Linked DNA regions of Homo sapiens. The protein of the gene in region 2 interacts with the protein of the main gene of each other region in a pairwise test. Each region holds a gene or a part of one and is shown on either strand. Other genes may lie near its edges.

What was found.
Region 1: the proteins of FAM163A (region 2) and alpha-crystallin A2 chain interact in binary tests that used the Homo sapiens proteins (3 or more experiments, as listed by UniProt).
Region 3: the proteins of FAM163A (region 2) and GAD2 interact in binary tests that used the Homo sapiens proteins (3 or more experiments, as listed by UniProt).

Annotation. Positions count from the first base shown.
Region 1 is NC_000021.9:6,561,540-6,565,084, reverse strand, and holds the end of alpha-crystallin A2 chain, read right to left. Parts: intron 3,166-3,545; exon of another isoform or gene 3,070-3,165; coding exon of another isoform or gene 2,992-3,069; intron 2,885-2,991; coding exon 2,762-2,884; intron 1,331-2,761; coding exon 1,121-1,330; 3' UTR 596-1,120; downstream 1-595. UniProt on the Homo sapiens protein: Contributes to the transparency and refractive index of the lens. In its oxidized form (absence of intramolecular disulfide bond), acts as a chaperone, preventing aggregation of various proteins under a wide range of stress conditions.
Region 2 is NC_000001.11:179,746,213-179,749,863, forward strand, and holds part of FAM163A (protein FAM163A), read left to right. Parts: intron 1-3,651.
Region 3 is NC_000010.11:26,223,268-26,226,918, forward strand, and holds part of GAD2 (glutamate decarboxylase 2), read left to right. Parts: intron 1-619; coding exon 620-710; intron 711-1,271; coding exon 1,272-1,384; intron 1,385-3,651. UniProt on the Homo sapiens protein: Catalyzes the production of GABA.

The DNA.
Region 1 (3,545 bases), on a different chromosome or scaffold from region 2:
AGCCAGGGCCCCCCAGGCCGAGTCTCCCTCCCCGTGGCGGGGTCTGGCATGGCCGCCCAGTGTCTGGTCCCGGGAGGGGACAGAGCGAGCTTCCGCCTCCAGCTCGGGGCCATGATGGGTTGCCCAGGGGAAGCTGCCGAGTTCCAGCTCCTCAAAAGCACGAGTGCCCTTAAAGCCCAGCCCCGAAGGCAGCAGGACCCCCGAGAGAACAGGACGACCCAGCAGACCCCGAGAGAACCGGACGGCCCCGCAGAAGGAGGCCAGGGCTGGCGTCCCGCCCCGGTGCCGGCGCGGACAGAGAAAGGAGCCCGGCCTCCCTCCATTCCCTGCAGCCCCTTCCAGGTCCCTCCCCGCCCCCAGCTCTCGGAACCGCTCCCCAGTCCCTTTCCCATCAGAGGCTCTGCCCCCAAAACCTCTCCTTCCAGCCCAGTGTGGAGGGAGGCGCTTGAGCTCAGGAGAAGGAAGGGACGCAGGCGACCCCATCGTTCCGAGGCCACCGGGTCCAACGCGAGCAGGAGACCCCGCTGTCCTCCCTCCCGGCGCCGCCCTCCTGCCCCTCGCGCCCCTGATGGAGACAGCACCAGCAGACGGCGGGTTGCTTGTATCACCTGCTGTTTATTGATTGCCGCGGGCTGCGCTCTCATGGGCGACCCATGTCCCCAAGAGCGGCACTACATAGAGGGGTTGGAGGAAGACGGTCTGAGAGAAGAGGCCGCGAGAGCCCAGGTGCACAGAAGCCCCGGCCCCACGGGCCTCACGCGCCCCAGGAGGTGTGGGCAGGGCCCGCCGCGGAGGGAGGCTGCAGGTGTGTCAGGAGGCACCTGGCCGGAGGTCACCCCCTCCTTCTGGACCCTCAGCAGAGTTGAGGCGCCTGCACCCCAGGGGAGCCAGGCTGCTATCTAAAGGAGTGTGAGGTGCGGTCACTTCCGCCACTGGCCGGTGTCGGGGTCTGGGACACCCTGAGACCCTAAGCTCTCCTGGCTGCTCTCTCAAACCCTCATTCCATGTGAGAAGGTGGAAAGGAAAAAAGGGAAGCAAAGGAAGACAGACACCCCGCCCTCAGGGTGCTCCCCCCATGATGGGCCAGGGCTGCAGGGGAGCCAGCCGAGGCAATGCCTGCTTAGGACGAGGGAGCCGAGGTGGGCTTCTCCTCCCGCGACACGGGGATGGCTCGCTCGGCGTGGGTGGCATCCAGGCCAGTCTGGATCTTGGGGCCACAGAAGGTCAGCATGCCATCGGCAGACAGGGAGCAAGAGAGGGCCGACTGGTCCACGTTGGACGGCAGGCGGTAGCGGCGGTGGAACTCACGGGAAATGTAGCCGTGGTCGTCCTGGAGAGGGTGGGGGCGCACAGTCAGGGGGGCCACTGTGCAGGCGGCTGCCTCGCCCCATGCCAGAGAAGCTGCCCCAGCCCCACTGACTGCAGAAGGGGGCCAGCCTGCGGGGGCTCTCACAGGGGCCGGGTGCAGCCAGCACATCCCATGGCCAGGCCCCCTGGGATTTATGGATTCATGCCCCTGCTTCTCTGGACCTCAGCCTGGCCTCGTGGCCACTTGCCGGGCTATTCCCCGCGGGGGGTTGTCTCTTCCCGCTCCATGGCTTCACTCCAAAATCGCAGGATCATTCCAGACCAGGCCCCGCACCTCAGCCAGTCTTCCCCTTCCAGACCCCGCAGGACTGCTCTAGCCCAGGTCTCTGCAGCCCTACCTAATGTGGCCAGACGACCCACATGCTTCCACGTCCCCTGGACGCCCTAAACCGCAGACTCAGCTCCCTGGGCTGACCTCCTCCTCCACTGGGTGCAAAGACCAAGAGCTGGGAGCTCAGGAAGCATGTTCCAGGCTGGCTGGGGCTACGTGGGGGCTTTACCGGGCCCAGGCGAGGGAGGGGCAGCACATGAGGAGGTCAGCGTTCACCCCCCAGCACCACCTTCTCCAGCCATTGAAAGAGGACCCTGGCCAAAAGAAACCAAGACTTTGGCTAAGAGTTCCACCTTCCAGCCCCACTCTGCTCTCCAGCCCCCGCGGGGCACTGTCCATCTGTGACAGTCCATGAGCTCTTCCCGGCTCCGCCAGGAGATGCAGGTCACCAGGGCTCCAGTGCCCCGGCTCCCTCAACACCACGGAGATCCGAGGCCTCCAGCCGAGCAAGAGCGGGGCATCAGGGTGACTGTGGGGAGAAGCTCCCGTCCACCTGCCCGGTACTAGCTGTGGGACCCAGCAGGCTGAGGACCCCCTTGTTCCCCAGCCGTGCCCTGGAATAATGAGGACACTGGTTCCAAAGTGCTGCTGTGAGGCGAAGGTGTCAATGCCTGTAAAGCATTCCAAGCGGATGCAGCTATGCCGTCGGGGACTGGCTTCCTCAGGTAGGGTTCATGTGAAGATGTACACTGGCTAGGAGGCGGCCACCCGGGGCACTCCCACTTCCTGGGGTTCTTTCTAAGACCACCCTGGCATCCAGGTGACAGGGATGGAGCTGGCGACGGCTGGGTGCAGCCCGGGAAGGGACCCTAACCTGGATCCCTGAGCCACATTAGCTCGGGAATGGTGACCTCTGTCACCGGGAGGGGCTGGCTGTGCTCAGGTGGGCACGGCCCCTCCCTTGGGGAAAAGCCAGGCCTGATTCGGGGTCCCCTGGAGAGCGTCCCTCTCCCAGGGTTGAAGGCATGGTGCAGGTGTGCAGGCCCGGTCGTGCCCGCCGTGACCCCCTTGTCCTCGCGCCCAACTCGCCCCCCTCTCCCACCTCTCAGTGCCTGGGCTCACCTGGCGCTCGTTGTGCTTTCCGTGGATCTCCACAAAGTCGTCCTGCACCTTCACGGTGAGGTCCTCCGGGGAGAAGTGCTTCACATCGAGGAAGATGACGAACTTGTCCCGGTCGGATCGAACCTGAAATCCAAACGTGCCATGTGGAGCTGCCCAGAGGGTGCCGTCCCTGCTGGGGTTGGCAGAGACAGGGCGGGTCCCGGTTATCAGAACAGAGATGCTTCGGTCACCTGCCGGCCTCTTCTCCCACACACCAAGTGGGGCAGAGCTTTCGGGGGCCTGTGACTGTCTCCTGGACAGACAGGCATGACCCTCGACCTGTCTCCAAACCCTCAGGGCCAGCTGAGGGGCTGAATGCTACTGGTGGGCCGGCTGGTTGTTTGGCTATGGTCAGGTGGCTGGTTATAGATAAGTTGGCTGGTTATGGGCTGGCTGGCTACTGGTTATGGTAGGAGGGGTCGTTACGGGTTGGTTGGTCCGTTAGGGTCAATCGTCTGGCTGGTGATGCTTGGCTGGCTGGCTGGACTCAGCCTGTGGAATGAGGTCACTGCCCTTGGTGTCATGCTGTCTATAGAAGCGGCCGGAGCCTGCTGACAGCCTGCGCAGCTGCCTCTCCAAAACGCACTTCCACATGCTCCTTCTCACTCCCCTGGCTCAGCCTTGGCTCCCTGAGGCATTTTGCACCCTGGCATTGATGCCTACTGCAGCAGCCCTGGGGAGGACCCTGTTTATGAGGTGCTGGGTGGGACTCAGGCCCTCCAGAACAGCAGAACCTGCACCGCTC
Region 2 (3,651 bases):
ATTATAAACGCCCATGCCATCTGACCTAGTGATTCCATTTTTAGGAATTGAACTTGTTGTTAAACTTGCATATGGGCACAAAGATATATGTACATTATAGCACTGTTCGAACTGTGAAAGAACAACTTACATGCTTATCAAAGGGGGACTTGTTAAGTGTCTTATGGTACTTCCAGAGAGTCAAATAGCGTCCTATTCATTCATGGAAAAAAGAATTAGTAAGTTTACTATATAACTGATATGGAATGATTTCCAAGATATATGGCTAAGTGGAAAAAACAACATGCCTGGAGTGTTTATAATATGCTGCTGCTCGTGTTATACAAGAGGAAGGAGAGTCTTAGGGTATTTGCTTGTCTGTGTATAACTATAGACACAAAACCTAATCATACCTGTTACCTCCAGGAAAAGTGGCCTGTAAACCCTTTTGTACCTTTTGAATTCTGAACCATGGGAATACGTTAACTATTTTAAAATTCTCTTTGTCCGTCCTGTGCCTGGTATGTTCCCTCAAACACTTTTCCAGCTTAACATTGTGGGGTGACGTACCCCACCCCCTTTTGGTTGCTTGAGAGGTTCCCTTTGGATTAAAAGCCAAAGGGCTGTGAGACTGCACAGTGCCCATAGTATCTGGGCCATCCAGTATTCCTTTGAAATATACAGAGTTGTACTTGGAAAGCTGGGGAGAGGTGTCTTTGGACAGCAGGCTCTCTGAGCTGGGTAGGCAAGTTATGATCATCCAGCCTTGAAAACAATCTGCAGAAATAGAAACCACCCCTTTCTCTATTGCCCTAATGTTCCCTTGTACAGGATAAAGTGTCAGCGACTGGATAGGATTGGGTAAAGGAGCAAGAGGAACACTGTGACTGGACATCAGAAAGGGCAAAAGATACGTAGGAGGGCTATTTCTGGTGTTGCATTTGGACCTCAAAAAGGTGAAGAGAGAGATGCTTGGAAAAAAAAAAAAAAGGTTTGACATTATCCTAGAGTCTAGGGCTGTATTGCCCCAGAGAAAGAAGGAAGATTATTGGCGCAGTTGTCACTGCATCAATCAGTGTGTCCTACATGCCCCTTTGAGCATTTCTTATCAGCACAGATGCCCGGCTCAGTTCCCCCTACTTCCAAGCACCCATTTTTGCTGATCCCTCAGCCTGGAAGCCGATGGATACACAAAGGGGATGGGGGAGATATTAGGTACTGCCTTTCTTTTTGGGGTGGGTGATGGGACAGGCTGTTGAATAGCAGAAACAATGGAAGAAGGACTTGCTTCCAGCCACAAAAGATGGGTCCTCCAACACCATTAGGTGGAAAGCCTTCATTGAGAGCTTTCTATGTTTCAGTCACTCTGCTAAGCCTACACTATTTCATTGAATCTCTTTATCTCGGGTATATGTGAGAGCCCAGGCTCTTTGGTATCAAGCAGCATGTCTTTCTGCTCTCCCTTCACTGACTTTTCCATTCTCTACGCAGTAAGCTGCAGCACAGGCGCAACTGCATCACATGGGTGCTTACAGACCTGGTTTTGGGTTATAACAGTATGTGGCTGAGCATTGCATGCTTTGATGGATCAGTTGAAATTTCTGCAGTATGGATAGATTTGTACAAGGCACAGTTCAGAAACAAAGCAGTCAGTGTTCTGGGTTTGGATTTCCATTTCTCTTATTTCTGTTTCTGTGTGTGCATTAGGGCTGGGGCTGAGTAGACTGTGCATGTGATGTTCCTAGGGAAAGGGGGAGGAGGGGGAGGGGGAGGGGGAGGAGGAAGAGGACTAGGAGGAGGGCAGCTTCTCATTGCTTTGGTCCAGACACCAGTGGTGTGGAAGGCTGTGAAGATGAGCTTGTGAGGCCCTGTGTCTGCACCCAAGGAGAAAGGTCAGCAAGGTGGCCACTAAGCCCCAAGTCTGTGCTGGGAGTCTGTCTGTTGTTTGGAAAAAACAGCCTGAGACCTGAGAGCCTCTCTCATTGCAAACCTCCTCCCTCTCATTAGCCAGGGCTCACCTCTGACTCCGTTTCCACTTCAAAAGGAAACAGCTCTAATTTTCCCCAAATAAATTCTGGAACGCACAAGGCAGCTGCTTTTTCTTGTGCTGCTGTTGCCCACAGTGGTGGGAGCAAGAAGCTGGGTTGGGCTCTCAGGTAGGGCTGCCAGAACCCAGCAAGGAGAGGTAAAGTCAGGGAGCCCTATTAGTTTTTAAAAAAAATCACCTTAGGCCAAAAATAAAGATGTTTACATAGTATACAAGTAGTGGAGGACCAGTTTAACCACATCAAATTCAGAAAATGTCTGTTGTCAAAGCCCTGAGAACACAGAAGGATGAGCAAGGCATGGCCCCCAGGTTCAGGTTGCCCACGGGCAGTGCGGGAGAGGAACATTCACATCACCAGCAGTACTCTGCAGACTAAAGAAGCAAACACTAAGTAGAGGAGCAAGTGACATGCTGTCAGGTGCACAGGGCTAAAGTGAAGCAGAGACTGGCCCAAGGAACTCTGATAAATTATTAAGTCCGTCTTGGAGAAGGTGATTTTTGAACTGGGCCTTGAAGGTAAAGTAGTGATTTTGATACATAAGCTCAGGAGAAAGGGTGGAACTCAGACAACAGGTTGGGCAAAGACACAGGGTTACAGTAGAATACAGAGTGTTTTAAAAAGCCTTAGTAATTCGTCATTTACCTAACTTCTGCCACAGACATAATACGTGTCATTTTTAATTACTTGTAACATGAAACGTTTATATCCCCATAAAATAGTCAACTATGATTTTTCATGTGTGTGGTAAAATCAACAGGTATTGACAACAGGCATGTGAAATCAACATTTCTGTTGTATTTAAATATCCAGCTACTGTGTCACTGTGACTATTTCAGTGGGAAGGTAGCAGAACACTGGAGTAAGAGTGCTGGTGATGAGGATTCGAGTTCTGCCTCAGCATTTTATTTGTTTGTTTATTCTCTCATTCATCTACTCTTGCATTCCAAAAACATGATCTTTGTGCCTGGACCAAGTGGAGGGCTGATGATGGAGAGAGAGAAAAAAGGAAAAGCATGGTCTCTATACTCCCCAGGGACTCACAGTACATGGAAGAGATCACAGAAGAAGGTGGTAACCATCATAAAAGCAGGGATAAGGGGCTGTGGGAAAACCTAGTGTGTGCTCAATAAATAATGGTGGCTATAATGAATAAACAGCATGATAAGCAGTAGCAGACACCAACAAGAAGACAAATCAGAGGACTAAAAAATATTTCTCTGGATTTGGCCAGTGGGTCTCAAAAACTTGTTTATGTCATAAAACCCATGGAAACTGTGGGGCTTTTTGGAGAATACCATGAATTATTCATATATTAAAATAACTAAAAATAGGCCAGGCGCGGTGGCCTACGCCTATAATCCCAGTACTTTGGGAGGCCAAGGCAGGCGGATTGCTTGAGGTCAGGAGTTCGAGACCAGTCTGGCCAACATGGTGAAACTGAAACCCCACCTCTACTAAATATACAAAAAATTAGCCAGGCATGGTGGCATGTGCCTGTAATCCCAGCTACTTGGGAGGCTGAGGCAGGAGAATCGCTTGAACCTGGGAGGTAGAGGTTGCAGTGAGCCGAGATCATGCCACTGCGCTCCAGCCTGGGCAACAGAGTGAAACTCTGTCAAAAAAA
Region 3 (3,651 bases), on a different chromosome or scaffold from region 2:
CTTTGTCCATGCCATCTTTAGACAATCATCACCTTTTGAATCCAGGGCAAATCATTCAGCAGAGTGTCCTATTTTCTCATTTTTGCCCTGTCTTTTGTAATCATCAGCCATTTGTCACTGATATTATTATGAATGTTGGCATGCCTGGCGGATGTCATGGTATGACCGATTCTCAGAACGACTACAAAAAAGGACTTCTAGCAGCATGAGTATAAAGGAGAAGTTACCTGTCTGAATGGCTGTGGGTTGCAGTAGCATTTTAGCTTGCGAAAATATTGAAAATAGAAAAGAGACTCATGCAGATTGCAAACCATATTTGTTATATTTATAGGGTCCGATTAAAGGAAGATTTGTAGGGTATGTTTTAAGAAATATCAAAACCTAAAGTAGTCTTCGTGGTTAGAGGAAACGCTTTTATGGTGTGTGTGTGTGTGTATGTGCATGTGTGTGTGTGTGTGTGTTCTTGTGCATACACACGTGTGTACATGTTGGATTTCTACTTATGGATTTCCTGTTACTGACAGATCTTTCAAGGTCCTTTAGCTAGAGAAATCATGTGTTTGAGAGGCATTTATTTTCACTGGAGGCAATCCTGATTCTGGTATTCCATTTTATTCAGGGCATCCTAGATACTTCAATCAACTTTCTACTGGTTTGGATATGGTTGGATTAGCAGCAGACTGGCTGACATCAACAGCAAATACTAACATGTAAGTAGCCAAATGTGTTTTTATGTAATTTAGGATAATTATTAGTGACATTCCATAGTCTTTACATCTTATGTGAAAATCTGTTTTTTATTAAGTAGCCACTAAAATAGTGATACAAACTTCTGAAGTGTGAGTGTTCACTTTAATGTAACAGAAAGTAGTCCTGATACATCTTCCATGTAATCAAACTCTACAAAATTTTTAAAATACAAAAGAGACTTTTTTCTCACGTTTGATTTATTATTGTGCATAATGTCAAAGACAAATGGGACCAGATATTATATTTTAAATCATGTTACTCTGCAATATTTTTTATTTATTCAATACAATAAATTCCCCTCGTGCATTATGTCAGTAGTTGGAGCTCTTGACTGTAGGGATATAGAAAAAATAAACATTTTGGAAGGCCTTTTTGAAATAATTTTCTCTCTGCTTAATGTTATAATCATAACACTTGTAAATGTATGTTTTGAAAAAGGAAATAGTTCTGTAGCTATTGTAATGATTGTAAATTATTTATCTGAGTTACAGAGGTAAAATGTGGCCATTACTACATTTCAGGTTCACCTATGAAATTGCTCCAGTATTTGTGCTTTTGGAATATGTCACACTAAAGAAAATGAGAGAAATCATTGGCTGGCCAGGGGGCTCTGGCGATGGGATATTTTCTCCCGGTACATGATATTTCAACTTTCTTTGTGTTTTTTCTTCTAATATGCAATGCCTTGTTGTAAACCTAGGGAAGATTAAAAATCTAGCCTATGCCTCTGCTTAGGTTAAATAGACTGTGTGTTGATCAAAAGAATGACTGTGATTAAGTGCACATGACCATTGAACATGCCTCCAAGCTAAGTAACCCATGCTTGAACATCAGTTATTTGTGTGCAAAGTGAGCATAATCAGAGATGGTACTTACCCAGTGCTTCTACTGTGACCCTACAAACAGGATGTACGGATAATGTGGAACAAAGGAATCAAGATTCCTAATCAGGAAATTCACTCTCTGATGCTCTTCCTAGAATTAGTGAAAGGAAATGGGTAGCCTCATTTAATAAAGCATTTGCTGTTCAAGGGTGCATAGCAAGGTATATCTACTCAGTAGAGCATATGGACCACTCTGTCTTTGAAATAACAAGCACCAAAGTGGATTTACACTAATTTCAAGGAGGACAGAGAACGCTTTGGGAGAGAATTTCTTAGAGCAAAAATAGAGGGTGACGATTTCTTCAAGAGATTTCTCATCCCTTCTCTTCTTTATCATGCCATTCAGTCTTTTCCATCCTGCCTTTTTATCACCAGCCATTGAATTCTAAGCTCCATTACTTAGACCTCTTCCAGCCAAGAGAATCAACCTGAAACAAAAAGCTGTGCCCTTGGTTTACAGTTCTGTGTGTGACCTTGGTTTGATGCAGAAAAGAAATAGAAGTTAGGAAGGCAATGCAAAGAGAGTCACTGACCCATGGAAAAGAAACCCGATGTGCAGACCATCAGCTAATCAGTGGCAGGAGCGGATGTCATTAGTCCACTGAGACAGGACCCACCTGAGAGAGAGGCCAGAGCAACACCTGTCGTTGTGTCAGACAGAGCAAAGGCCAAGTGGTTGTGCTCTCTCTTCAGCAAATCTACAAAGACAAGCAAATGATGAGGCGGGGATAGGGGAGAAAAGAAAAAGTGAAAAGAAGAAATGATAAGCAAGAGTGACCCCAAGGCCAGGGCTTAAGTTAAGCATGTTTGCCTGCAAGCTCTGGTCAGCTATTTTATGTGTTTAAATATATAGCACAATTTTTCAGGTGCTGAAGGAAAAGGTGTTAGTTAAATGGAAGGGAAAATTAGCCTTTTAAAAAGTCATTGAACACCAGCTGTGATGAATTTTAAGCTAGCCTTTATTTTTTATGGCACTTAGTACTTAGTTTTCCTTTGGAAAGCCATCCCTGTTGAGGGAGCTTGGTCATCATTGCCTGATGCTTTGAAAACATTGTTCATGAGGAATGAGGTGGGGTACAGAGATCCACATCATTTCTACCTTTCTTCTTCCCACCCTTGTGTGGTTGGTTATAGGATTGATCTGTCCCTGAGATGAATCAAGAACATGCTGGGCTCTATTTTTTTTTCTTTTATTTGCATTTATTTTATGCTGAATTTATTCCCGTGCATAAGTTTTAATGGTCCCCGGGAGTAGGGAGAGGACAGATGTACCTGTTGACCCTGAAAATTTGACTAATTTGACTAACAGCTAGGCCTAATTTACCTGGCTGGTCTGAAAAACCTACATGCCCCAGAAAACATACACCCAGAGAAATAATTCTCTTAGGCAGTTCTGCTAGGCTTAGAGCTTACCCTCCACCCTCACTGATAATGGGGGATTTTCACATGGAGAAGACTTCAGCTTGAGCATGGGAATTATAGGCTTCCTTGGAGCCTAAAGACCCATTTGCTCTTACGCCAAGATGCAAGCCATAGATGTCACACTACAGTGCAGTGCAGACATTGCAAAGTTGGGAGGAGACAGCAGAAAAGGTCATTGCAACCTGTTTCTGCTCTACTTTCTACAAGACATCACAGACGAGAAGTGGCTCATCACATCCTTACTGGCTATGGATGCTATTCCCGGGAGCAACCAGCCTTGCTCCTGCAGTAAAGGGTCTTACAATTTAAGGGGTGGGGATAGAGAAAGCCACACATCTTATGCATCTGGGATCTAAAAGTCTCATTCCCTGGGACTCAATGTGAAGAGTTAGGTCTGTGACTTAAAACATACTGTGTCATAGCTCCATCAATAATATCCAAAGCCTTCATGCTTCATGGAAAGTCCTTTAGGACTCCTAGAAGAAATCTGCTTTTGTGATGTCACCTACACTGGGAACCAGAGAAATACAGAGCATTCCTTACTGCTCAGCAGGTCACAAAGCACAAAGACTAAAGAGGGGCTAGGAAAGAAAGC